5 linked regions of the Homo sapiens genome follow. The protein of the gene in region 4 purifies or fractionates together with the protein of the main gene of each other region. This does not show direct contact. Each region holds a gene or a part of one and is shown on either strand. Other genes may lie near its edges.

Region 1 (4,131 bases), on a different chromosome or scaffold from region 4:
CACACCCCACCCCACTTAGCTCCAGTATCAGCTTTGAAAGCACTTCCTGTTGCCTGGCCAGGGTGGTGGCTCCCAGCCCCAGGGTCCCTAGACTGGCCCTCAACAACCCATGCTCTAAGATCCTGGAATGCGTCTGGCTTTCCTGCCAGGCTGTGCAGTCCTAGAGGGAAGCGGCCGTGTCTGCGTGCTGCTGGCTCCCGTGTGTGGAAGGGTGACTTTCTCCCAGGCCTCCCTGACCCTCCTGCTCTGTGCTCTTGAGCCCTCTGCCCTTGGCCCTCACAGTACTTATCACCAGGTGTCACTGTACATTTATTTGCATGTTTATTGGTTTAACACAGGGGTCGCAAACTCAAATGCCCACAGGGGCCAGGTTAGGTTAGCGGCTGAAGCAGTCTGGGGAGAGGCAAAAAGCAATGGCAGGGAGGTGGGACAGAGGAATGTGGGCCCCAAACTATGGGGGCAGCTGCTACTCAGTGCCAGCTGTTCGTCGCCATGGGGGGAAGCGGGACCAGAGCCGCCGGGTCTTCGGCTTTTTCAAGAGGACGCATAACTCCGGATTGTTATTTGAACTGTCCTGACTTTGGTAAGACTCTGCAGACCAAACAAAGCACATGTGTGGAATGCGCAGGGCCCCAGGACTACCCGTTTGCGACCCCTGGTTAACAGCTGCCTCCTCACCTAGCCTGGCAGCTCATTCAGAATAGGGACCGTATTTGCATTACTCACCTGCTACTCCCAGTGCCTGATTCAGGGAAAGTGCTCAGTAAATGAGCTGTGGAGCAGAGCTAGGCCTGGCCTTGGGCACCGGGGAGGGGCTTGTTTCCTTGAATAGGGGCCCTGGGCTCATCTCAGCAAGAACCCTGGCACATGCACCTGCAGCCCACACCTCCCTCCTCCCCGGGGTGCTAGCTGGGGCTATGTGGCCAGCTCCTCCAGGGCTCAGGGCTGTCTCTGTGACCCCGGGGAGCTGGGCTGGGCCCACACCTGTGACGGTGACAGTGAAGGAGGCCGACTCATCGTCAATTTCACACAAGTACTCGCCGGAGTCCTCGAGCTGGACAGCGGGCAGCACCAGGCGGCGGACAGTGTCTTCCTTCTGCAGGAGCAGCGCGGGGCTCTCCACCACCTCCTCTCCATCCTTGGTCCAGCGCACCTCTGCCCAGGGCCGGCATAGCTCACAGGTCAGCACCACACGCTCCAGGCGCACGGCTGCCACATACACCTTGCCGCTGGGATACACGATCCACGAGGAGACGTCTGGAGGACAGGGACAGCCACTGCCGGGCATGAGGGGTGTGCCCTGCCGTCCTCCCTGACCCCGTTGTGTTCCCTACCCCTGGAAAGTAGGCCATGTGTTGAAGAGGGACCTTCCTGAGACCAAATCTCACAGCAGCTGACAGTTACTCACAGCTAGAGACACACGAATACAGCTGTCACAAAAGCACAGCAGACTTTCTGCTGCGCAGGAGCTGCACAGAGGGGACCACGGGGTCAGCCTCGGCTGTAGAAACGCTCCACATTCTCTGGGTTGGGACAGGGACGGTATGAAGGGTGGAACTGATGAGAGGAGGGTTGGGGGGAGGAGCTGGGGGTCTCCTCCTCCAAGATGTTTTTGCCCCCCTAGTGCCTGAGACCACCAGCCCTAGACTCTGCCCTACCCTGCAATAGACTCACTGTCCCCAGAGATTTCCCTTGGTACAGGTTTTCAGGAGAATAGAGAAAGCCAGGCTTCCTTAGCCAAGACCAATGTGCTTATGATAACACGTTTCCTGAATGTGACTAGACCATAGCTTGAGGAGAAAGGGAGGAGGTCCGATCTGCCAGGGGGAGGGCAGTAGGGGCGGGGAACAGTGGCCTGGGAGTGAAGGTGTGGCAGCTGTTCCAGTGGGAGCAGGGGCACCTTCCCCTGTGCCTCCGAGGCCCACCTGGCCCCCCACCTGTGATGGTGACAGTGAAGTAGGCACACTCATCTCCAGCGACGCACTGAAACTCGCCCCCGTCTGAGGGCTGGGTGGCGGGCAGCACCAGGCGGCGATGGGGCCCCTCATTCTCCAGCACCACGAAGTCACTCTCCTCCACCTCCTGCCCGTCCTTGTACCAACGCACAGGGGCGTCCTCTCGGTCCACCTCACAGGCCAGCATGACACACTCGGAAGTTATGGCATGCACGAACACATGTTCTCGGGGGTCCACGATGTGCACGGGAGGATCTGGGTGGGAAGCAGAGATGGCATTGCACAGACACCCCCGCACAATGAGTCCAAACTAGCTGTGTGGCCAGGAGACACTGTTTCTGCACAAGAGGACACTGGAGGAGGGCTAAGGTCCTGCTGTGTAGGGACTCAGGGACAATGACAAGGAATGCTGAGGGCATGGCAGGTGAGGCATGGCAGGAGATCATGTGGCACCAGAGTGCTCTGTAGGTCCCCAAAGGATCAGAGGTGGCGGGGTGAGTACATAGAGAGAAGGAAGCACAGAGAGTTCACAGAGTGGCAGCCACCATTTGTCTAGGCTGAAGGGAGGTCACTGTCACAAGTCACATCAGGGCCATGCTTACTGCCTCTATTACGAGAAAGACCCCAGGGTGGGCAGGAGGTGAAGGATGATCCAACAAGTGGCAACAGTGAGACAGCCACTCTCCAGGTAGTGGGTTCCCTGTCACTGGGTGCATTCAGGCAGGGGCCACAGTGTGGAAAACAGGACTCCCACTCAGTGAGATGAGTGGGATCCATGGTTCCCAAGCTGCTCTCTCAGAGAGTCTGCACTTGTTAGGAAAGGATCTTCAGGCTCCACCCTGGATACTGGGGCTCTGGACAGTCCAGGGATTTATAACCAGCTTCCAGGAGCTTCCTAAAGCAGCCAGCCTACGGACTGCCTTGTGAGAACCACGGGGTGACTGCACTCGATGCTTCTGTTTGACTCTATCTGAGGCAGCAGGAACAGAACAATCCTGTGTGTGTCGCCAAGCTATGGTGTGACGGAGGTCACATAACCTCTTACAGCCTCCATTTCTTTGCCTGTGAACTGGAGATATATTGCCCCTCATCGAGTTGTGAAGATTAAATGAAAGAGTGTATATTGAAAATACTTAGCATAGTGCTTGGCTCAGAGTAAGTGTCCAAAAAGTGTTTGCTCCCATCTCTCCTCCCCTTAATTGCATTTTGTTCCCCCACCCAACCCAGCAGAGGCTATGTGGACAGCGAGACAGTGTTAGTGTATCAGGGGTTTAGGAGGCAAAGGCACGCTGTGCGTGGCACACACCTATAATCCCAGCTGCTCAGGAGGCTGAGGAAGGAGGATCGTTTGAGCACAGGAGTTCAAGGCCAGCCTGGGCAACAGTGAGACCCTCATCTTAAAAAAAGAAAGAAAGAAAGAAAGCCAGGCATGGTGGCTCATACCTATAATCCCAGCATTTTAGAAGGCTGAGGCGGGCAGATCATTTGAGGTCAGGGGTGACCTAACCAACATAGTGAAACCGTCTCTACCAAATAATAAAAAAATTAGCTGGGCGTGGTGGCGCGCACCTGTAGTCCCAGCTACTTGGGAGGCTGAGGTGAGAGAATCGCTTTAACCCAGGAGGCGGAGGTTGCAATGAGCTGAGATCACGCCACTGCCCTCCAGCCAGGGCAACAGAGTGAGAGCCTGTCTCCAAAAAAAACAAGAAACAAAAAAGCAAGTGCAGAGTTATCTGAAACATGTCCCCTGGGCCACTGGACTCTCCCTGTAAAGGACTCCCCCAAGTAGGCAGCAGACCAGAGGGCATGGCTTATGCGGCCCCACAATCAGCCTTGGCTGGAGGAGCCCAGGCTGGCATGCTTCCTGACCTTGGACAGTGACGCCGAAGAAGGCCGAGACCCCTTCTGTCCTGCACTCAAACTCGCCACTGTCCTGGACTTTGGCCTCAGGCAGGATCAGACGGTGTTTGCGCCCATCCATCTTCACCACCAGCAACTCGCTCTCCTCCACCTTCTGCCCATCCTTGTACCAGGTTGCCGGGAAGTCCACCCTTGAGAGCTCACAAGTCAGCACCACCCGCTCTGAGGTTGTGAAGGTCAACGACACCCTGTCCTGGGGGCTCAGGATGTGCACCGGGCTCTCTGTGTGGGGAGAAGTACAGATAAGCACCCCTCC
Region 2 (4,131 bases), on a different chromosome or scaffold from region 4:
TAAAAAAGAAATAAAAATGGTTGCAGAGAACATAATGTTAGTGAGTCTAAATTACATTATTTCCCAGCACAGACATATAATCATTAAAATTTTTAATGTCACTTGTACATTAAGTCAACTGAATAATGTATTTGGTTTTCCTTTTTCTTCTTTCTCCATATGTATACTTTAACCAGGTAAAGAAACTGTATGATTCATTAATCCTGAAACACTTTATTTCCCCTTACTCTAACACAAACAAACAAAGCAATCATATTTAAGAAAATTAACTTACCTAGTGTATTTTCCTTAGAGGCATCTGACGTAAGGGTGGATAGAAGAGCTTCAGATTTAAATTTCTTTTCAGGAATATGATCTGTTGTCGTATGGTGAGAAGTTGGATTATATTTCCTTTCTAAATATAAATAAAAAATTCATGTGTTTTTAAACTTTAGAGAACTATGGACAAGGCATAATACTTATATCCAGTTAAAATGTGAAACAGTATGATCTGGGTTCCTCATAAAATACAGAACATGATGTTTCCTCAGAAGGCAGGACAAGCAGAACTCTGTGTCACATGTTTATTAAGAGTAGACTTCTCCACCATTTAAAAAACTTCTAGCAAAGTACTAAAGATAACCCAAGATACACCATGGGCTCACATACAATGTGAGGGAAATTTTGTTTTCAAAACACAATCTACCACTTAAAATAGTTTCCCACCAAATTGATGTGTCAAAAGATGTACTGATATAGTCATTTTTTGACTGTTACCAACCAGCCAGCCAGTCATCTAACTAACAATTCATCCACTCACTGACTTACCAACCATTCAGACTTAATTATATGCCAAACATTAGGTTAAGCACTGGAGAAGCAAGGATGAAAAAGACAAAGGGCCTATTACAAAATAGCTTATTGTTTGGCTCAGTTGAAAAGCTCCCTAAGGAGAATGCTCAGTTGAAAAGCTCCCTAAGGAGAATCAGGTATGTGTATGAAGGGAATATATGCTATTAGTACTATACATTCTCCTTCTACGCATTTAAGAGAAAACAGAATACTCATTTCCGAATCACATATGCTCCCCCCAAGGAAAAAGACAAGTCTGCCAGTACTTGCAATGAAAAAAAAAGAAGGGATTTATTTCTCAATTGGTTGTGTAGAGTTAAAAAAAGAGAACATATAGGTGATATAATAAGGTTTTCATTGTTTTTAAAACTTAGCTGCACTACACCAAACTTACTTTCCACTGGAGTATGTGAATGAGCATGGTGATTGTTCACTGGCTGTGAAGGAGTGTCTAATTCCAAAGATCCTAAAAGAAGAGAGGCACAGAGATACACCACCATTAAATGTCACCGCAGAACTTCACATGTCACTCAACTACAGGCAATGAGTTCCCTTACCCAGCAGAGGACTAGCAAGTTCTGATGCATATGCCTGTATTTATTTTAGCCAGACATGTTAGAGGATCACCACTGTCCATCCCACACTGAGTTATCCTCTCTCTAAACAATAAGTTATCCTTTTCCCAATATTAATCTTAAGTACAAAATGGCTCAAGGCATACTCGTGTCTAATTAGGGAATTCACCATAGTGGGTGCCATATAAATGGATGAATGGACATTGTAATCTCATTACTGGTAAGAGTCAACCTAGTTTTACTGAGTTGAAGACCTTTTAATGGGAGATTCTGAAGTTCTACGTGATGGGGGACATTACTATATGAAAAAAATTATTTGATCATTAAAATGACATTATGATAATAAAGACTTCCTAAAAGAAGTTAGGGATTTTGTTCGCAAAAAGTGAGGAATAGAATCTCTAACACCAAGCTTTAAAATACCTCTAAATACATTTTTCTGGGTTTATTTTTGATCCCTTGAGATGAAATTATGGCAGGGCACAGGGTGGAGCAGTTTTTATAACTTGATCCAATTTTGTTTCATATGTCTGTGTCCTTAGAGAGGATGCTTTATTAACCTTCCTGCAGTACTGAATAGGCATGAATTATCATTACTCACAGCTATCATCAGCATTTTTAAAAAATCAAAGCAGATACAGAATTTTTAATTTTGTCTCAAAATACTTATTATCTTTATATAGGGTTCCTCCAGAAGAAAAGTATCACAAATAAATAGGATGATTATCTAAAGTGATGGATCTACTTTTGAACACAAAAATGCAACTATGGATACCAAGACAGATCTGTGATTGGCTTCCCTAGCTGACTTCTAGTGAGTAGAGAGATACATAGATTGGCACTGTAAAGAAATCTTTCATCTGTGTGTAGAAACAGGTACATATTCTTACTGTTGAAATGCACCAAGAAAAAGAAGGTTTGTAAGTTTTAATTAAATTCTAGTAGAAATTAGCCATAATATTAATTTGGTTCAATTAACATCTAGTGAGTGCCTACTCTACACCTAGTACCACACTAACTGCTTTTATGTACATTACCTATTTAGGTTGAAGAAATGCTAAATTAGTTAAGGAAACAGTGCTCATGCTTCCATTTTTGGGAAGTCACACCAAAGAAGTGACAGGGGTAAGTTATAGCAGGAGATCAAATAGAGCCTTGCAAAGAAATATCAAAATGGTTTCTTGCTGCTAAGGGAAAGAAGAAAACACTTCTTTAAGAAAAAGAGGTAGTGTTATGAAACCAATGTGAGTCTTTTTCAGTATATGCAGTTAAGGAAAAGCCATAAAGTAATTCTTAAGAAGAGAAACTAACAACTTTCCTCAAAGCTTAAGTGTATAAAGAGGCAGAGTAAAGTCAACACACTTAATGCAAGATGGTTAATTTGTCTCCCGATGGTTACATTTCTTTAAATTTGTTCTTACCACTCAACTTACTAGTATATGTGGATATAAAATGATTTAATATGTTGTTTCATAAAGAGTGAGTGGATGATATCCTATATTATCTCTCTCAGTATGCATGACCCAAACATTTCCAACTGTTAGGGTCCAAGCTATCTGGCCTGGATGCCACCATCCATTGAAGGGCAGGATTTCAAAAGCCTCTGTGGGACAAGGTCTTCTCAGCGATTTGCACATGTACTGTCCAATATTGATGGAAAACTGTAAATTTTACTTACGCCTCTCTAATATTTCTGTAATTCCAGCATTATCAGCTTCCAGCTCCATTTTAAACTTAGCCAGTTCCTGATCCAGCTTTCTCAAGTGTCGATCTACCTGTTTCAAAGAAGATCAAAGATAACCACCAAAATTTGGGACACTGTTAAAGTGTCAGCTTAATGAGGAAACCTAAATTTTTGTTTCTTTTAGTGAATCTGCTTAGTATCCTTGAGCAAGTCAATTAATCTATGCCTCAGAGGTTTTTAATCTATAAAATGAGGGTGTTAGGCTAAATAATCTCCCAAGTCTCCTTCAATAAATTTTAAGTTCTAAGACCCAGACTCTCAACTTGTTAGGAAATGTTCTATACTCCATTTTCAGAAGTCAGGACATGAAAATTAAAGCAAAACTGATTAGGGATTAGAGAATGGGAGGAGGGGATGGTGGAGGCTGGTCACTTTTCATAATATGCCCTGTGATTACTTAGAGCCTAATCTCCTCCTGCTTATAAGGCCATCATCCACACTGTCATACGATAAAAGCTATTATTTAGAATGATGAAAGATCCTCAGTCTACAAAGAAGTTCCTATATTCTATACATCTATTACTCTAAGGCATGAGAGTGAATCATAATGCTTGTAAACATTTATGTGAAGAGGTGAAACAAAAGGGATTGTTAGCCAGAAAACTCCATTCCTCAAAGGATCTGGTTAAAATTATTTTATTTATAATACTATTTCCCTAGTTAACTTGGCAAAATTTTATTTTGTCACTGAGAGATCTTTTGACTAATTTCAGAAAATTATATGACACTTCAAACTAACAAAAAATGTCTTAATGTATTTTTTAAACTTAATATTAAATATTTTAATATTTTTTCAAACTCATTACTTTGAAGTGAAACCAAAAAATACACAAATTCTTTGAAAAATATTCATGTCACATTATTGATAACATCCTTTTCTAAGTCTAGTTTCCCACTGGATTACTGCTAGAATTAGAAATAACTTTCTTACAGATATCAACATGTGCTATGATACTCTACCAGGGCAACATTTTAAGTAAG
Region 3 (4,772 bases), on a different chromosome or scaffold from region 4:
ACAAAAATGAGTCGGACATGGTGGTGGGCGCCTGTAATCGCAGCTACTCAGGAGGCTGATGCAGGACAATCACTTGAGCCCAGGAGGTGGAGGTTGCAGTGAGCCGAGATCGCACCACTGCACTCCAGCCTGGGTGACAAAGTGAGACTCTCTCTCAAAATAAATAAATAAATGCATAAATAAATAACATATGATCAAATCCTCAAAAGAAATCAGGCACCTATTTGAACATGGCATTCTACTGGCTACTATACAAAGTGAGTTGCCTAGCAAAGCCCATGTCTTCCTGGAAGCAGCTTGGGCACACAACCCAACCAGTCAGACATGAAGGATGTTCAGACCACTGGATAAATAGCAAATAACTCATATCCAGCCTCCGTGCATAACCCTGTATGTTTTGCCTACCACCGAGGACCACACTTAAATAGGTTGTGCAAACCAAAGCAAACTGCTCATGGAGGAAATATAAGAAATGACTGTACAGTACAAGAGTATTACTGACTATTTAACCCAGAGGTACTTTTTAAGGAGAAGGGAAAAGAACAATGAGAGAATGGAAAAACAAATTTAGAACTATACGTTACCATTAACTGTTTCTGGCATAAAAATCTCTTTTGATTGCATTTTAGTGGGGATTCACACTCCAGATGCACCAAATTTAGCTTCAGCATCAGTATTTGACCAACATCAGACAGTCGGCTTTGGCCTTTAAAAACTAAATAAGGAATGCTAACTTCAAAAACACTTTTGGCAGCCCTGAACCTGTAACTGATGAGTATGGGATGACAGAGGTCACCATTGCATCTAATCAGGGTTAAAGGCAATCATACACAAGCCAGGTCCTTCAGATTTATTTTGGTATGTAAACGTTTGCTTTCAAATATTTGTAAGCATTCTAGATGGAACAGAGTGAAATGCCCCTTATGTGCTTAAAAATGTAAATTTTGGCTGGGCGCGGTGGCTCACGTCGGTAATCCCAGCACTTTGGGAGGCCAAGGCGGGTGGCTCACGAGGTCAGGAGTTCAAGACCAGCCTGGCCAAGATGGTGAAACCCCATCTCTACTAAAAATACAAAAATTAGCCGGGCGTGGTGGCAGGTGCCTGTAATCCCAGCTACTCAGGAGGCTGAGGCAGAGAAGTGCTTGAACCCAGGAGGTGGAGGCTGCAGTGAGCGGAGATCATGCCACTGCACCCCAGCCTGGACGACAGAGCAAGACTCCATCTCAAAAAAAAAAAAGGTAAATTTTATCAGTCGGTATTACAAAAGTAAAAAGCTACAGTAATTAGGGTGAAAGCTGTCAATTTTACCTATTAAAATAAGTAAGAATATTTAATTCAATAAGCACAGTGAACATCAATATCGAAAGACAATTTTCGGTGGTACACTATAGTCGGGTGTGGTGGCTCATGCCTGTAATCCCAGAACTTTGGGAGGCCAATGCGGGAGGACTGCTTGAGGCCAGGATTTGAGATCAGCCTGGGCAACACAGCAAGACTTTGTCTCTGAAAAAAAAAACTTTAGCCAGGATTAGCGGGGCGTGCCTACAGTCCCAGTTATAGGCTCACAGCAGGGGAGGATCTCTTGAGCTCAGGAGATCAAGGTTGCTGTGAACTGTGTGATCAGGCCACTGTACTTCGGCCTCTGCCACAGAGCAAGACCCCAACCCCCAAACACAAAGTGAAACATATCTCTGGGCGTAAATAAATGTTCACCAAAAATTAAATAATTATGCTAAAATAACAGTTTAGATTTTAATTTTAATCTTTTTATAGTTTCCATTATTATCTTGTTAGGATGAAAAGTAGACTGTCAACTCTGCCACCCCAAAATTTCACATGAAGGAAAAACTCCAAAATTCATGTATGACATCCAACCTAAGTAATTTCAATCCAGTAATAATAAAGAACAGAGAAGGATGAAAAGAAAGTATTGGAGAAAAATTAAGTATTCCCAAATTGCTCCTCCACCAACATCATTTAAAAGTATGCATCCACTGAGTAATGCAAATGTGTAGAATACCAGAGAAGCCATCTAGCAGCAACAACACAGGCACTGTAATTTTAAACGTTTATATTTGCTTCCTATATTTTTGAAAAATAAAGTTGTAATAACAACGTTTTGAAAATTTCCAAACTCTTCCTTGTATCCCAGAGGTTCCTTTTTTGCTCTTTGGCTTTGGCTTTGACTGGATACTGATTTTACCCTTGGCCATTCTGCACCTAACCTGACTGTGCACTAGGTCCCCTGCCATAACCTGGATGAAGGTCTGGCTGAGCGTCTCTGGGATCCTTTACAGCCCCTCTAATGCATCAGTCGGGAATCAAAAGCGTGGGTCCCAACTCTGACAGTGACTTTTGAAGAGTTACTTGTCCGCACTAGGTCTCAGTCTTCTCATCTGTCAAATGGGAATAACAACTGTACCTATCTCACATCTGTTGTAAGGATTAGATAATATATTTAGAGAGCTTAAAATGTTTAAAATGTCCGCTACTGCTATCATCACTATAATTGTAGTGTTCAATGACTGTGATTTCACCAGAGGGTCCGTCTGCCTTACGAAATTGCTGTCAAAAGAGCTTACCAATAATCCGTAGCAGATCACACCAGCTCAACAGGCCTCCACCTCCAGGAAGCCCTCCAGGGGCGGGCCGCCCTGCGCTATGCCCTCTGGCTGGACGCGTAGGGCTCCGGCTCACTCCGCCCAAGTCAGCCTCCCGCATCCCGCACGCCCGCGCTGGGGCCCGCACCTGCTCAGCAGGCCCTTGGGTGCGAAGTGCGCTTCTCCCGCCCCACCCAGGGCAGACAGTCCCGAGCAACGGCGCCCGCCGATGTCTCCCGGGCGCCCAGGAGGCCCGGTCTCTCCAGGGCGGTGAGTTCAGGTGGCCCGCCCCGCCCCGGCCGGAGAAACCCCGAAGCCCCGCCGCCGCGGACTCCAGGCTGCACAGGCCCCCGGGCGACGCGGGCGTCTCCGGGGCGGGCTGGCAGCCCGAGGCCAGGAGAGCACCCGCGTGTTGGCCTGGACGCTGTGCTAGGGCAGCTCTTACTGTTTCACGTTGTCCCCCAGGGCCTCGCTTAAGTTCTTCTTGGCCGCCTCCAGCTCGCTCACAAAGGTCGCCATTGCTCCGCGTGTCTCAGCCCGACCGCAGACCGCCCGGCCACCGCGATCAACAACCCAAAAACCAACTCGGCGGAAGGCCTTGGCTCTGGAAGCTAAGCCGGCCGCCGTCAGTCCCGCCCCCAATCTCTCAGAAGTCGTTTGTTTGGTTTTCGGCTCCGCCCGCCTTTTCGCAGGGAAGGTGCCCGGCCAAACTCTGCTCTCTTCCTCCCGCCCCTCGAGTCACGTGATCCGCTTCACCTTGTCGCGCGCCCATCCTAAACCCGCGCGCCCCGCCTCGGCTGCAACGTTGCTGACAGGCTGGCGTGTCCCAAGCTCTTTCATTCTGTTACCGCTGGGGCAATTCCGAATTCAGCCTGCTGTTCTTCTGCCTGGAGGAGTACCTTACCCCTCCATTTAAAAAAGTAAATGCAGTATCAGTTTTACTCTTTCCTTGCCTTATTTTTCCCCGAGCACTAACCGTCTCATATGACATTTAGTTGATTTATCTTGTAAATGTTATGGCTCGAGGACAGGAGTTGTGTTTTATTCACTGTTACCCGCAATTCTCTAGAGCAGCGCCTGGCACATAGTGGATGCTTAATAAGTATTTGAGTAAATGAGGTAACTATGTAAAATTTGGAAAATACACAGAAAGATAAAGATAAAAAGAAGGAAAAAGTGTTTTACCACTCCCGGACAAACACTTAACTGAGAGAGATTTCTCCTTCACTTCGCACACTCCCATGACTTAAAATATTCTATGTTCAATTTTGCACGTTTTTAAACTTAAGGATTTATCTGTAGTATTACATTGTCTTTAGAATAATTTTAATGACAACATATTAAATACCCCCACAGATAGAAGGTACACAACTTGTTTCCCAATTGTTAGACTGTGTCCATTTCTTCTCTATTAAAAAGCAATACTGTAATATTGCTTTTGAAGCATATAGCATAATGAAGCAAAACTTCTTTATGCATAAAACTTTTCCTCCTTTAGGATTATTACTTTAGCATAGAGTCCCACACATAGAATTACTGGATCAAATGATGGGAATATTTATAAATGCCTTGGTGTATATTGTCAAATTGCCTCCCAAAGTTTTTTAAATAATCCTAGATAGCTTTTAGATCTTGTGTAATTTCTCCAAAGATGTCCCCTTAAGTTCATTCATTCAACTTCCTCACTGCCCAACCTAAACCCACAAGCCCTGTCCTGGCTGCAATGCCAGCCGGGCACCTTCTCTTCACTTGAATTCATACAGTGAGCTCCTATTATGTGTCTGGAACTCTTTGAGTACTGGAGATACACAGGTGAAAGGAGATACAAAGGTCAGGCAAAGTCTTCCTCTCTGTGTCAAAACTCTGGGTAAGTTTTGACACATTTAAAAAATATCCACTTAAGTTTTCCATGGCTCCCCACGCTCTGCTGAACAAATTCCAGACTCCAGCATTCAAATGTTCTCATGATCTGAACTCACCCTACCTGTGTACCTCACACACCACTGGCCTTCCCACATAACCCCACACTTGGACTCAGCATTCTAGTTAACTTGACTTTAACAAATCACATGGCTCTTCCCCTTTACGCATATCTCCTCTCTGCTGGTTTTGAGACTTATGGTTGGCTACCTCCATTTTTTTTGAATCAGGTTCAAACATATATATGAATCT
Region 4 (4,632 bases):
TTTTTTACTGTTGTTGTTGTTGTTTTTTACAATGTTCATGCATTATTTTTTCCTGAATTTTATTTTGAAAAAATTCAAACGTACAAATAGATCAAAGAAGTAGAACAATGAACATACATATAACCACCAAGATTCCACAATTAACATTTCAACATAGTTGCTGTGTAGTTCTGTTTCTATCAGTCAATCTATTTACACACACACACACACACACACACACACACACATATATTTGAAGGTCACAGGCATCATAACACATTCCCACTAAATTCTTCAGAATGACTCTTTAAAGAATAAGAAGATTCTCCCTCCTAACCACAATATATTATCACAGCTAAGAAAATAAACAATAATTCCTAATATAATCTAATTTCCAATCCATATTCAAATTGCCCCAATATTCCCCAAATGTCTTTCATAGCTTTGTAAAATCCAGAATCCAAAACCAAGGTTTGTGTATTGCATCTACTTATGTCCCTTTAGTGTCGTTTAATCTAGAACAGTGCATGCTCCTAATTTTTGTGTGTGACACTGAATTTTTGAAGAGTTCAGGCTAGTTGTCTTGTAGAATATCTCATATTCTGAATTTGTCTGTTTTCTTATGGTATGTGTGTTTTTAAAAAAATAAAAAGATTTAATAGCAATAATAATAAAAGAAACCAGGCTCTGTTTTATATAAACAGCAACCTTAAAATGAGTATGCTATCCCAATATGCCTAGTAGCAGCATTGCCCAGTCTTCTGGTTCCCATATCAGATTCTTTAATCATCCCGCTGTCCTTCTTTCTCCTTATTCAGCCAGTTCCCAAGTCTGTGAATTTGCCCTTTGACATGCCTAATGGCTTAATGCCTTCTCTAGTCCCACCATGCCCCTACCCTGGATCAGGCCTTCAATACCTCAGCCCTAAAGTATTGCAACTGCCTCCTAATTGACCCCTCTAGTGCCAGAATCGTCCCCTGAACACCTGCTGCACTGTGAATATAGAAAACACACTGCCTTTTCTACGTCACTCCTATCTGGAAAACCATCAATGGCTATTTCCTATTTCTCATCTTTCTTCAGTCAGAGCCAGCTTTGAATGTAGCCTTCAACACCAGACAGAGACCGATCTCTACCTAAATCCTAGTGCTGCCATTACTTGCTGAGTGGCCTTAGAGAAGTCACTAGGCTTATCTGGCCTTCCATTTTCTTATCTGTAAATTGGAAATAACAGTTGTGCCTACCTCTCAAGTTTGACCAGCATTTGCCCACAGAGCTCCCACCTTTTCTAGGGGTCACTCCAAGCCTCATCCTTTCTTTAAGTCTCAGCTGAAGCCTTGCCTCCTCCAGGAGGACTTCTTATTCACAGCAGCACCCCCTCTCTGAATTTCCATAGCACTTGTGGTCTATAGGGAAGAATTTAGCAGATACTAGTCTTATTGCCCACTCATATTTACATTTTCCTCTTTTTTTCTTTTCTTTTTTGAGATGCGGTTGTGCTCTGTCCCCCAGGCTGGAGTGCAGTGGAGTGATGATGGCTCACTGCAGCTTCGATCTCCTGGGCTCAAGTGATCCTCCCATCTCAGCCTCCTGAGTAGCTAGGACCACAGGTGTGCCCCACCAAGCCTGGATATTTTATTTTTAGTTTTTGTAGAGACGGTGTCTCCCTACATTGCTCAGGCTGGTCTTGAACTCCTGGGCTTAAGTAATCCTCCTGCCTCAGCTTCCCGAAGTGTTGGGATTACAGAAATGAACCACCATGCCCAGCCTTTTTTTTTTCTTTTTTAACATTTGTAGACATTTTCATCTTATCTGCTCATTTGGATGGCCAGGGCCCCTTGAGAGCAGGAGTAGATCTACCCATTGTTTCTCCTAGAGCCTGTTAGAGAGCTAGTGCTATGCTGAGCATCCAGCAGCTCCGAGCTGTCACTTGACCGTGAGAAGATGCTTTGTTCATCTTTAGAGTCCTCCTTTAACTCTGATTGTCTCTAACTCCAGTGAGACAGGAAGGACCAAGGGTTGCGACCATCATCCAAATAATCATAGTAATTCCACCTATTTATAGAGCACCAATTATGTATCCAGCACCTTGAACATACGGATGCTCCTTGACTTATGATGGGGCTATGTCCCGATAAAACCATCACAAATCAAAAATATCATAAATCAAAAATGCATTCAGTACCCTAATAAGCCCGTCATAATGTCAAAAAATTGCAAGCCAAACCATTGCAAGTTGGGGACTGTCTGTATATTCTATTTGATGCCAATTAAGCAGATAAAGAAACAGAAGATCAGAGAGGATAAGCAACTTGCCCAGTGTCACTCAGCTATTAACTGCTGAAGCTGGAACTTGAACCCAAGTTTGTTTAAATACAGAGCCCATATTTGTTCCCTGCTGCCTCTGTAGTAACAGTGATCAGTATATTGATAGAAAGAAGGACAAGTTATTAGAGCTGCTGGGATTAGAATGCAATTTATTCTACTACTCTTTTTATAAATGAGAATGTCCACCCTGAGAGTAACATTGTGCTACCAGTGGTGGTGTAGTTTCTGTGAATCTGTTTCCTCTCAGAATCAAGGTCCAGAGACATGCCTCTCTGTGGTCATGGGAGAGAATGAGACAAAGCAGCTCACAATGGATTTAGGGTCCCTGTCTCTTTCTCAAAGAGTCTGAAACTGATCATCTGGGTTAATAGGAACACACAGCTAAAAGCAATGATAAAGATAAGTAGGAGAGTAAAGGAAGAGAGAATGATGAGATGGCAAGTAAACAGGGGAAAGAATAGGCAGTTAGACTGGGAAATATGTGTAGGGGAATCCCACATGAATCCCTAAAAAATACCCTGTGCAGTTGGGGAGTGGTGCATGTGTGAGTGTGTGTGTGTGTGAATGTATGATATTGATTTTAGATCTATGTGTGTGTGTGTTCAATCTTTAGATTTAAATAAAGAACAGACCAAATTCAGAGTCTAACTGCCTCCTTCTCAGCAGCCACTTCATCACCCCCATGTCACATTTCCCAGCTGGAGGGCAATAATTGCATGGCCAGATCTGGCCCCATCTGGGAAACACCAGGGTCTTCCTGAATCGTCATACACCATGCTGGCTGCCAAGGCATAAGGTGACCTAAGCGAAGCTTTCACACAGGCCATGTGCACAGTCATAAAATCTCGAGAGAATGTGGCAACAGAGACAGACTTGACTTACCTGCCAAATTTCCAAAGGGAAGAAGGAACTTGCTGTGTCTGTATTTGCCCCCAGGATTGGAAAAATGTATCTCAGTCACTGGAACTGAAGAGGGGTGGCCTTTACCTTCATAGGAGAGTCACTCTTTATACAAATCCTTCTGATGGTCTGATATATGTGTGTGTCTTTATATAAATAGAGCTATATACTGACTTTGCCAGATTGCATCAGCTACCTGCTTAACATTTTACTCTGGTGCTTTCGAAACAACACTCTGAAAGTCAGAATAATATGTGGCCTCTGCAGCATTTCCCAGTTTGGCATTTTGTTTACAGAGTAAAAGAAAGCTACTCACCCTTGAGATCATCAGTGATTGAATGATACCTACTGTCATGTGTTAGAAGCCATGTCACCTTGACAGAACTCATTCACAGGAAGAAGGGCGGGGAGGAGGGTTACAACATGGTGGTGGTAATTCTTAGAGAAATCAAGCAGTGAGCTGGCCACTTGTAGTGCTTGCTGTTGCCAAGGCAGTCTTTCGTGTCTTTACTCAGTAAACACATATCAGGCATAGGGAATACAAAAACAAATAATATATGTCCCTTCCCACCAGGAATCCAGCCTTTGTCCCCAGTTCTCTCAAGGAGCCCACTGCCAAATGAGAGGTAAGCCTCTTCAGGAAGAATGCTCAGGGAGAATGAGAACACATGGACCCAGGGAGGGGAAAACACACACTGTGGCCTCTTGGGGGGCTGTGGCGGGTGGAAAGCATCAGGAAAAATAGCTGATGCATGCTGGGCTTAATATGTAGGTGATGGGTTGATCGATGCAGCAAACCACCATGGCACATGTTTACTTACATAACAAACCTGCACATCCTGCACATGTACCCCGGAACTTAAAATTTAAAAAAAAAAGAAAGAATTTTTAGGGATTACTGGTCAGTATGGTTGCCTGAGCTGTTGCAGGAAGCTCCTCCCCTGCTCAAAACACATTGTTTTTTCAAAAATTTAAATATGTTGTAGAGAGCAAAAGCAAAAATAAACATATTCTAGTGCCAGAAATGAAGAGGGAGCTCAAAGCCACAGCAGCAACTACACAGCCCACAGAAGAACCAAAGGTGGTCACATATCCTGGGCGAAGGGTTTGAATGGCAGGGTGGGAACGGGAGTGGAATCTGAGCTCCTATGGAAAGTCAGTAGTGGTAAGTGCTGGCCCATAAGTGGGGATGGGGGAAAAAACACAGTTCAGAAGTGTACTGGCCACTTTGAGCTGAGAGTAGGCAGTCACATAACCCAAAGTACATAAGACTCCAAGGTAAAACAATTCCTGCCAAATAACAGTAATTACACTAGCCAAGTGCTTAATTATGTGCCAGATGCTGTCCTAAGTGCTTGGCTTATATTATTTAGGTTGATGCAAAAGTAATTGCGGTTTTTGCCGTTGAAATTAGTGGCAAAAACT
Region 5 (4,131 bases), on a different chromosome or scaffold from region 4:
ATAAACATGGCTATGATGAAAAAATATTAGATGAATATCACTTTATAACTAAATATTTAGACAATATGTCACACTGGAGCCTGGTCTAATAGTCAAAGTCTTCTTGAGAAGGGTTTAAGAGGATACGATTAGAAGTCACAGATCTTTTTGCCTTTAATAGAACTATATTAGGATGCTAAGGAAGAGAAGATACAGTCTTTGTGAGGCAATGGAAAGGTATTCAATTAGTCCAGGAGTTAGAACATGAAATTCCTTGTTACATGGACATGTTGCAAACAAGAAAGGAAAATAAAAAATAACATTGTAGTCCCAAAGCAGTCTGCAAACAGGCATGAGATACAAACACAAGCTCTAAAAGCTGGGAGAAGTGTGTGGAAAAGGTCCATTAAAGGACATACGTTTTGAGTTGGTAGAGAAGGTGATAAATGAGACTAGCAAACCGAATGGAAGGTGTAGGCATCTGGTGGGGGTGGTGGGTGGCAATACGGAGAAAAATGTAATTAGAACAGGGATTATACTAAGGAATAAGGAGGTGTACATGTGAGTGAAGGGAACAAAATAAGGCTAAATTTGTGGAGGACTTTGGCAGATTGAGAAATTTATATTTGAGGTGATAGCTGTTATAAAGCCTTGAGTAGAATAACTATATTTGTTGAGAGCAGATAGGATTAAAGATAGAAAAGCTGACTAGGAGACTATGGCATTTATTCAGGAAAGGATGGACACTGAGAAAACTTATTGTGGGAGAAAACTGGGAAGAGGACTTGCTTACTGAATATAAGAGAAGGAAGGGTCAAAACAGAATTGTGGGTTCTGTAGACTAAGAAAATGGTGATGGGGTCGGGTGTGGTGGCTCACGCCTGTAATCCCAGCACTTTGGGAGGCAAAGGTGGGTGGATCCCCTGAGGTCAGAAGTTCAAGACCAGCCTAGTCAACATGGTGAAACCCCGTCTCTATAAATATACAAAAATTAGCCGGGCATGGTGGTGGGCACCTGTAATCTCAGCTACTCAGGAGGCTGAGGCAGGAGAATTGCTTGAACCCAGGAAGCAGAGGTTGCAGTGAGCCGAGATTGGGCCATTGTGCTCCAGCCTGGGCAACAAGAGTGAAAGTTCGTTCAAAAAAAAAAAAAAAAAAAAAGAAAAGAAAAGAAAATGGTGATGGGGATAAGGAAATTGGGAAGAAGCAGTGATTTTGGAGATAAAGGAAATGTGATTTTTATTTTAGAAATGTTACAGCAGGTGGTAGAGCATCTAAAGGGAATTGACTTTTGGATGCATGGAGAAATGACACCAGAATTCATATAAGAAGTAAAGGTAGAGAGATTTGGGAGCCACCTGAATAGAGGTCAAAGTTGAAACCTCAAAGTATATATACATTTTTTTAAAATACATTAATAAGAAAGCAGAGGACCAAGCATGAACATAGAAGGTAGGGATTTATTGAAAGTTGTAAAAGGGAGAGGACAAAGAAAGATATAAAAAAACCAAGATAGTGGTGTAATGAGAGCAAGGGAAGATATATTTTAAGCTTAATGTTTCTCAACATCAATTTGGATATGACCAGAAGGATGCCAAAGGCAATCCTAAAGTGTGTTTTGAAGGTTTAATGGTTCATAGGTTAAAAATGTTTATACACTGAGGAAAATATCCCCTGCCCCCTCAATTTGTTTGCCTTACGGTTTAGTTATGGATGATTTGGGCTAGAGGAAAATAATTGAGCTAGCTATGCTCCAGTTCTTTCCCTTCTTTTGGTGTGAATATGAGGAATTCCAAGTAAAAATAATTATTAGGTAATATTAATGTCTCTATTATACTGTATTGTATGGTGCAATATCTCTGTTATACTGACATGGGGCTTTCTTTATTCCCAAAGACAAATATAATTTCATCTCATGTCTCCCTTCAGCAAGATTTTAATTCTTCCTAATGATGAATACTTGAATACAAATAAATTTCTGGCCCCTTATTTTTCTACTGAACTCGGGAGATGGAGATGCCTCAGGAATATTTATTTGAATGAATTTAATGCATGTTTTCCTGTGTATTTACAGATGGGACACGAGTGGGTTTGGCTGGATTCTGAACAAGATCATCCCAATGACTCTGAGTTGAGCAATGACTGCAGGTCCCTCTTCAGCTCATGGGACTCCAGTCTGGATCTTGATGTGGGCAACTGGAGGGAAACTGAGGATCCAGAGGCTGAGGAACTAGAGGAAAGCAGCCCGGAGAGAGAACCTAGTGAACTGCTTGTTGGGGATGGAGGCAGTGAGGAATCTCAGGAAGCGGCAAGGAAAGCCAGCCACCAGAACCTCCTCCACTTTCTCTCTGAGGTAACAGTGAGCTCTTATTTCCAAAGCTGGAAAAGCCTCAACTTTCTAAGAGAATGCTTATCCTTACATGCTTCTACCACTCTTAATATTGTTTACTAAAATATAAGCTCCACAGTGGCAGGGATTAAGTTCATTGCTATGTCCTCAGCACTTGGTGCTGATACAGAATATGCACCAAATACATGCTTTTTGGGCCGGGTGCAGTGGCTCACGCCTGTAATCCCAGCACTTTGGGAGGCTGAGGCCAGTGGATCACTTGAGGTTGGGAGTTCGAGACCAGCCTGGCCAACATGGTGAAACCCCATCTCTACTAAAAATACAAAAATGGCCGGGCGCAGTGGCTCATGCCTGTAATCCCAGCACTTTAGGAGGCCGAGGCGGGCGGATCACTTGAGGTCAGGAGTTCAAGACCAGCCTGGCCAACATGGTGAAACCCCATCTCTACTAAAAATACAAAAAATTAGCCGGGCGTGGTGGCGGGCGCCTGTAATCCCAGCTGCTCGGGAGGCTGAGGCAGGAGAATCACTTGAACCTGAGAGGCGGAGGTTGCAGTGAGCTGAGATCACACCATTGCACTCCAGCCTGGGCGACAGAGCGAAACTCTGTCTCTAAATAAATAAATTAATTAAAATTAAAATTAAAATTAAAAAATTAGCCGGGCTTGGTGGCATGTGCCTGTAATCCCAGCTACCTGGGAGGCTGAGGCAGGAGAATCGCTTGAACCCGGGAGGCGGAAGTTGCAGTGAGCTGAGATCGTGCCATTGGACTCCAGCCTAGGTAACAGAGCGAGACTCCGTCTCAAAAGTAAAAAAATTAAAAATAAAAAAATACATGCTTTTTGACTGAATTTCTAATACTTCAGTCATTAGGGGCCTGGGTCATAAGGACTGCTTTATGAGTATCCTTGTAATTCATGCTTTTGGAGTTGTGGGAAGTTATACTTGCCCAAATTTTCCTTGAAGCTTAAAATGCTGTAACTTTAAGGTAGTATTTTTAAGTGTCATTACCTTGGTTAAGGGCTGAGGACCAGAAATAAACAGAATTGGACAGAGAGTTATATGTATGCTGTTATTGAACACATTTAGAAGACCCTAGATCAAGATCAGCAAGCATCCATTTCAAATGTTGCCACTTCTCTCTACAAGTGTCTGTGGTAGACAAAATTTTCAACACTTTATTCTAGACAGCCACTCCCAATTGATCAGAGTTGACAGCTGAGATGAAAAAGTAGAACATAAACTCCTGGAAGAGGCAAGAACCATATCTTTCTTGTTCACTGTAGTGTCCCCACCAACCAGCCCAGTGCCTGTGTATATAAGATATTTTGGCAGATTTTAGATGATTGTATTAATTAAACCATTTTGTCCTCTCAGACTTAGTCACTGTGACAGTGTTAGCATGTGGCATTGTTGATATGTGGATGATGATTTTCAGTGGTGTTCCTGTGCATCTAATAATAAACTTTGATTGCAGGTAGCTTATTTAATGGAGCCCTTGTGCATCAGCAGCAACGAATCAAGTGAAGGCTGCTGCCCTCCATCTGGTACCAGACAAGAAGGAAGGGAAATTAAAGCTAGCGAAGGAGAAAGGGAGCTCTGCAGAGAGACTGAAGAGCTTTCAGCTAAAGGAGACCCCTTAGTAGCTGAAAAGCCACTGGGAGAAAATGGAAAGCCAGAGGTGGCTTCAGCTCCCTCAGTTATTTGTACAGTTCAGGGACTACTCACAGAGAGTGAAGAGGTAAGAAAGTAACTTAAATCAGCTGTCTTGTTGGTCTTCTGCCTAGGGAAGCAGAACAGAGT

What was found.
Region 1: the proteins of PLAC1 (region 4) and OBSL1 purify together in Homo sapiens (affinity purification with mass spectrometry; 3 studies listed by BioGRID and IntAct, with this or other methods). This does not show direct contact.
Region 2: the proteins of PLAC1 (region 4) and ING3 purify together in Homo sapiens (affinity purification with mass spectrometry; 3 studies listed by BioGRID and IntAct, with this or other methods). This does not show direct contact.
Region 3: the proteins of PLAC1 (region 4) and TADA1 purify together in Homo sapiens (affinity purification with mass spectrometry; 3 studies listed by BioGRID and IntAct, with this or other methods). This does not show direct contact.
Region 5: the proteins of PLAC1 (region 4) and BRD8 purify together in Homo sapiens (affinity purification with mass spectrometry; 3 studies listed by BioGRID and IntAct, with this or other methods). This does not show direct contact.

Annotation. Positions count from the first base shown.
Region 1 is NC_000002.12:219,561,418-219,565,548, forward strand, and holds part of OBSL1 (obscurin-like protein 1 isoform 1 precursor), read right to left. Parts: intron 4,098-4,131; coding exon 3,825-4,097; intron 2,211-3,824; coding exon 1,938-2,210; intron 1,258-1,937; coding exon 985-1,257; intron 592-984; coding exon of another isoform or gene 467-591; exon of another isoform or gene 305-466; intron 1-304. UniProt on the Homo sapiens protein: Core component of the 3M complex, a complex required to regulate microtubule dynamics and genome integrity. It is unclear how the 3M complex regulates microtubules, it could act by controlling the level of a microtubule stabilizer.
Region 2 is NC_000007.14:120,963,792-120,967,922, reverse strand, and holds part of ING3 (inhibitor of growth protein 3), read right to left. Parts: intron 3,182-4,131; coding exon 3,085-3,181; intron 2,668-3,084; exon of another isoform or gene 2,452-2,667; intron 2,221-2,451; exon of another isoform or gene 2,090-2,220; intron 1,298-2,089; coding exon 1,226-1,297; intron 395-1,225; coding exon 275-394; intron 1-274. UniProt on the Homo sapiens protein: Component of the NuA4 histone acetyltransferase (HAT) complex which is involved in transcriptional activation of select genes principally by acetylation of nucleosomal histones H4 and H2A.
Region 3 is NC_000001.11:166,873,115-166,877,886, forward strand, and holds the start of TADA1 (transcriptional adapter 1), read right to left. Parts: upstream 3,151-4,772; 5' UTR 3,120-3,150; coding exon 3,046-3,119; intron 1-3,045. UniProt on the Homo sapiens protein: Probably involved in transcriptional regulation.
Region 4 is NC_000023.11:134,655,139-134,659,770, forward strand, and holds the start of PLAC1 (placenta-specific protein 1 precursor), read right to left. Parts: upstream 3,334-4,632; 5' UTR 3,190-3,333; intron 1-3,189. UniProt on the Homo sapiens protein: May play a role in placental development.
Region 5 is NC_000005.10:138,150,683-138,154,813, reverse strand, and holds part of BRD8 (bromodomain-containing protein 8), read left to right. Parts: intron 1-2,053; coding exon 2,054-2,332; intron 2,333-3,805; coding exon 3,806-4,069; intron 4,070-4,131. UniProt on the Homo sapiens protein: May act as a coactivator during transcriptional activation by hormone-activated nuclear receptors (NR). Isoform 2 stimulates transcriptional activation by AR/DHTR, ESR1/NR3A1, RXRA/NR2B1 and THRB/ERBA2.